Linked DNA regions of Homo sapiens: region 2 is linked to region 1. A link means that fine-mapping ties the variant in region 1 to the expression of a gene that starts in the linked region. Tissue or cell type: whole blood. Region 1 holds a variant in brackets; the other region holds the start of a gene. All regions are shown on one strand. Distances are from middle to middle.

Region 1 (2,756 bases):
CCATGCCTGGCTAATTTTGTATTTTTTAGTAGAGATGGGGTTTCTCCATGTTGATCAGGTTGGTCTTTAACTCCTGACCTCAGGTGATCCACCTGCCTTGGCCTCCCAAAGTTCTGGGATTCCAGGCATGAGCCACTGTGCCTGGCTCAAGTAGGAATTTTTATTTTATTTATTTTTTTAGACGGAGTCTTGCTCTGTCACCCAGGCTGGACTGGAGTGCAGTGGCTTGATCTGGGCTCATTGCAACCTCCACCTCCCGGGTTTAAGTGCCTCAGCCTCCTGCCTCAGCCTCCTGAGCAGCTGGGACTACAGGCGTGTGCCACCATGCCCAGCTAATTTTTGTATTTTTAGTAGAGACGGGGTTTCATCATATTGGCCAGGCTGGTCTCGAACTCCTGACCTTAGGTGATCCACCCGCCTTGGCCTCCCAAAGTGCTGGGATTACAGGTGTGAGCCACTGTGCCTGGCAAAGTGCTAGGATTACAGATATGAGCCACCAGGCCCGGTCGATAGTTTTTGTTATCAGGTATTCATGCGTGAGAACCCTCTCTTCATGGTCTTCCCTGGCTCCATTTGTCAGGGTTTTAAAACAAATGACTCTATTTTGATTTTGATAATTTTCACAAGGAATATGCTCTGTATATTCCAACAATCTGAGTTTCTCATCCTGGAATCAGCCTCTGAGTGGCACTGGGACTATCCTGAGTCAGCTACATCTCTAGAACCTATCAGGAGCGGCTCTATGAGCTTGGCCTCATCATTTTCCTCCTCAACTAGCAGCATCTGTATTTGTCTGTTTCTCAGTTTTCCTATTGATGTAATGGCCAGAACTTTCTTTGCCCCTCTTAACTTCTCTAGGAGGTTGGAGACATATGAGAGAAAGGAAGATTTGCCCTCCGTGCAAGCAAAACTAAAACTCTTCGGAATTATATTAGTAGCAACCTTTCTGCCCGACAGGGTGTGTGGAGGAGCTACACATTGTGTCACTTTTTTTCTTCTTCAATAGACTCTTTGAAATAGTTATGACAGACATTACTATCCCCATCTTGCAGACATACAAACTGAACCCTGGGCTTTGGTGAAAAGATGGATAGT[A/G]GAAAATAGGTTTAACTCCTGGTCAGGTGCTCACTGGTTTAATAGGAGCACAGGAGAGCCAGTTTTTTTGCGGGGAGAGATGGGGAGTGGACGCGTCTCCATTACCTTACATTCACATTTGTTTTGTTGATTAAAGTAACAATGGGTTGATTATTGATGACCACTGTATTATTCACCTGATGTTAATCATACTCCTAACAAATGATCAATTAGATAATTAGATAATTCACATTAGTATAAATACTCTAAATAGTCCTTCTCTGTCCTGGCAGAAATCCTCACGTCTAAACTCGGGGTCCTCTTTTTTTTTTTTTTTTTTTTTTAGTAGAGAAGGGGTTTCACCATGTTGGTCAGGCTGGTCTCGAACTCCTGACCTCAGGTGACCCACCCGCCTCGGCCTCCCAAATTGCTGGAATTACAGGCGTGAGCCACCGCGCCCAGCCGATGAGGTTCTCTTTCAACCTCTTGCGGATTCCCATTATCTATCTTAAACTACACTCTTTCAACCTCTTGCGGATTCCCATTATCTATCTTAAACTACACTCCCATCGTGCAACGGAAAACGGACAGAGCTCCTGCGTGCACCGAAGGGACTTCGAGCCAATCCATTGTCACAGCTCTCAGCCGGCGACCTATTGGCTCCTGCTGGAGGCGGGACTCCCGGTTGCTAGGCGGTACCTTTTCCGGAAGTGTTTGTTGCGCGCTGCAGGGCAACACCCCGGCGTCCCTGGAAGCTGGGGGAGCGGGTGGGTGTTGGGTGGCGTTGGGGGAGCTGCGCCTCGCCCAGAGCCTCGCCCGGAGCCTCGCCCGGAGCCTTCCGGGGTGGGGGATAGTTGAGGACCTCATCGAGGGAGGGGTTGGGCGGCGGGGAAGGGAGCGAGCGTGGCGGGGGACCCGAGGCACGCTCTCGAGCCAACGAGCGTGATGCGCTCGAGTGTGGGCGGGGACTGAGGGAAGAAGTGAAAATCGGACTGCCAGGCGACAGTTCCTCCGTTTGAAATCTCGCCGGCTCCTGAGCGGGCCACCGGGCCCGGGCTGGGGGTCTGGCGGGTGAGTGAGCAGCGGGTCGGGACGCGGGAGAGGGGCACTGGGCACGGGGCCCTGGTTTGCTTGCTCTGTTCATCGTTGGCGAGTGAGGCCAGGCCTTCCGAAGCTTGCTGGGATACTTCTGTGGCAGGCTTCCCCCCGGGTCCAAATCCGGGGCTAGCCCAATCTTATGCCATCTTTGGCCAGCTGGGAAAGTTGGAAAGCTTTTTTGTTTTTTCCTTTTCTTGCATTGGATTTAAAAATGTCCCTCTACCTCTGGCACCGCTCTCCTCACTTGGCTTCAGCGACTCCCTGTCCGTTCTCCTAACTCAGTCCTTGGCAGTAGAAAGCTCCCTTCTACTCGGCGCACTCCATCTCTTGCGTTATCAGCTTTTCAGCGTTGACTCGCCAAACTACTCCAGCCAGACCTCTTTCCTGAGCTCAGACCTGCTTACTGTCATCGTCAGCCTTCCCCGGTCCCTCCGATCTGTTTCTCCTCTTGTATTTTTTTATCTCAATGAAGGGCTTCACCATTCACTCAGCCAAGTCTGTCCCTTTAATTTATTCATCTAATAAATACAGCAAACATTTGTCGGACATGCCCTGTCTTCTAGGCAGTGTAGTAGGTGGGGCTG
Region 2 (2,500 bases), 130 kb before region 1:
GGTCTGTTTTCCAGGCTGGTAGGGACTGTTCCTAAAGGGAGGAAGGGATGATACCAGCCTCCTGAGCCTCCTTCTCCTGCGTTAGTGTCTCAGGCCCTGCCAGGCCTTATAGACCCTCTTATTGACACTGCCCACTGGATGGGGACCGGAGTTGGACTCAGCTTCTGCCGAACCCTCAAATCCCAGCCCCAACTAAAGCATATAACTCAAGACCTACCTGCACTGAAAGCTCTTCTCAACCTGAGCAGGGTGGTCCAATTGAAAGGGTGGGTCTGACCACCTCTCCTGCACCCATGCGGGTTGGCAGAGGTGTGCAGGATCTGCCACTTACCATTCACCATGTGGCCTTGAGGAAGACGCACTCGGGGCCTCAGTTTCCTCATCTATAAAATGGGGATGTAATTACACCCTCACACTGTAGCTGTGAGTATTCAATGAGAGCACTGCAAAGGGCCTGGTGTGGAGTAGGTCCTCAGGAAAGGTTGGATCCCATGTCCCATCAGAGCTAAAAGCCCCAGGAGGAGAGGGTGGCTGGTTTGTCCCCACAAACCCCTGGGATTCCCGGCTCCCCAGCCCCTTGCCCCTCTCTCCAGCCAGACTCTATTGAACTCCCCCTCTTCTCAAACTCGGGGCCAGAGAACAGTGAAGTAGGAGCAGCCGTAAGTCCGGGCAGGGTCCTGTCCATAAAAGGCTTTTCCCGGGCCGGCTCCCCGCCGGCAGCGTGCCCCGCCCCGGCCCGCTCCATCTCCAAAGCATGCAGAGAATGTCTCGGCAGCCCCGGTAGACTGCTCCAACTTGGTGTCTTTCCCCAAATATGGAGCCTGTGTGGAGTCACTGGGGGAGCCGGGGGTGGGGAGCGGAGCCGGCTTCCTCTAGCAGGGAGGGGGCCGAGGAGCGAGCCAGTGGGGGAGGCTGACATCACCACGGCGGCAGCCCTTTAAACCCCTCACCCAGCCAGCGCCCCATCCTGTCTGTCCGAACCCAGACACAAGTCTTCACTCCTTCCTGCGAGCCCTGAGGAAGCCTTGTGAGTGCATTGGCTGGGGCTTGGAGGGAAGTTGGGCTGGAGCTGGACAGGAGCAGTGGGTGCATTTCAGGCAGGCTCTCCTGAGGTCCCAGGCGCCAGCTCCAGCTCCCTGGCTAGGGAAACCCACCCTCTCAGTCAGCATGGGGGCCCAAGCTCCAGGCAGGGTGGGCTGGATCACTAGCGTCCTGGATCTCTCTCAGACTGGGCAGCCCCGGGCTCATTGAAATGCCCCGGATGACTTGGCTAGTGCAGAGGAATTGATGGAAACCACCGGGGTGAGAGGGAGGCTCCCCATCTCAGCCAGCCACATCCACAAGGTGTGTGTAAGGGTGCAGGCGCCGGCCGGTTAGGCCAAGGCTCTACTGTCTGTTGCCCCTCCAGGAGAACTTCCAAGGAGGTGAGGAGTGTGTGAACGCACCTGTGTTGGAGCACGGTGTCCCACTCTGGCGGGTCCCCAGGGCCTGAGCAGCAGCGATAGCCCTGTGACAATGTGAAGGGCCACAGAACTCTTGTATTCCAGTCAGGGGCAAAGAGTGGAGACGGAAGGCCTGTCCTTCTGACAAGCAGCCCCTTCCACTGTCTGACAGTGGGAGGTCACCCCCACTGTAGCAGAGGGGTGGGGGGCGGGTACTGCCAAGGAGGAGCTTTGGAGTGATAGGCGGGGCAGGCCTGGGACCCTTGGTCTTTCCCAAAGGGTGGTTCCCTTTCGAAGTTGCTATTCCAAAGGTAGCAGTGAGGATGGCACACATTTATGTAGCCAGGCCACTCCTGTTTGTCCGTGGAGTGGAGAGGAGCCACCCTCCTGCCCTCTCAGAGGTCCAGGTGTGCTCACTCCTATTTGGGAAGAGAGAAGGGGCACAGCAGCCCTGCAGGGGCCCCTGGCTCTGCTCGTGTTTCTGGGCTTCTGCTGGTAGGGGGTGCCACCTTCCCGTTTGACCCTGGACTTTCTTTCTCCACTGCCCACTTTCACCCACTGGGCAGCTCAGGGGAGGGGTCCTGGCAGGAGCCACAGGGCAGGAGGGTCCATGCCTGTCCATGCTGTCCTGGGAGTGTCTTGAGATGCCCCTGGGGGGGCCGCCCTGTAATCATCCTCCTCTCCCCCTCCCCACTGGCTCGAAGGCAGGACTCGGGAGGCTTCATCAGAGGACTCTAAAGGATTTCTGGGGATTCTCCACTTTTCGACCCTGACCCAGGAGGAGGAAGGGGAAGGATGGTGGTGCTGGGTGGGAGTGGGGATGGTGTGTGCTTCATCCCCCTCTGACCGAAATCCTAATCTTGTCTCTAGATCTGGGGGCTGCAGCGTTGTGTACCTGTCACCCTTAGCCTTGCTGCTTTGACCTGTATTGTCTGTTCTGACCCTCCTGAGACTGGAAGCTGGGGGTAGGGGACACACTCTCCTTCCATCCTGTTCCTCAGGAGCCCAGCAGGGGTGCAGAAGGGGAAGGCAGACATGAGGGCAGGTGGAGTGGGGGT

The links. PIP is the estimated chance that this variant, and not a neighbour inherited with it, causes the effect.
Region 2: TAGLN starts here. The variant in region 1 is fine-mapped to the expression of TAGLN in whole blood (TOPMed, PIP above 0.99).

The regions. Positions count from the first base shown.
Region 1 is chr11:117,326,064-117,328,819 of GRCh38, forward strand. CEP164 (centrosomal protein 164) reads left to right here and starts at 1,791. Exons shown (of 33, transcript NM_014956.5): 1 at 1,791-1,841. RefSeq lists a silencer at 1,859-2,108. The variant A/G (reference allele first, on the strand shown) is at 1,096.
Region 2 is chr11:117,198,406-117,200,905 of GRCh38, forward strand. TAGLN (transgelin) reads left to right here and starts at 965. Exons shown (of 5, transcript NM_003186.5): 1 at 965-1,027. It overlaps LOC100652768 (a long non-coding RNA gene), which reads right to left. Exons shown (of 8, transcript NR_045215.1): 2 at 1,446-1,507; 3 at 332-383; 4 at 1-31. RefSeq lists an enhancer at 1-185.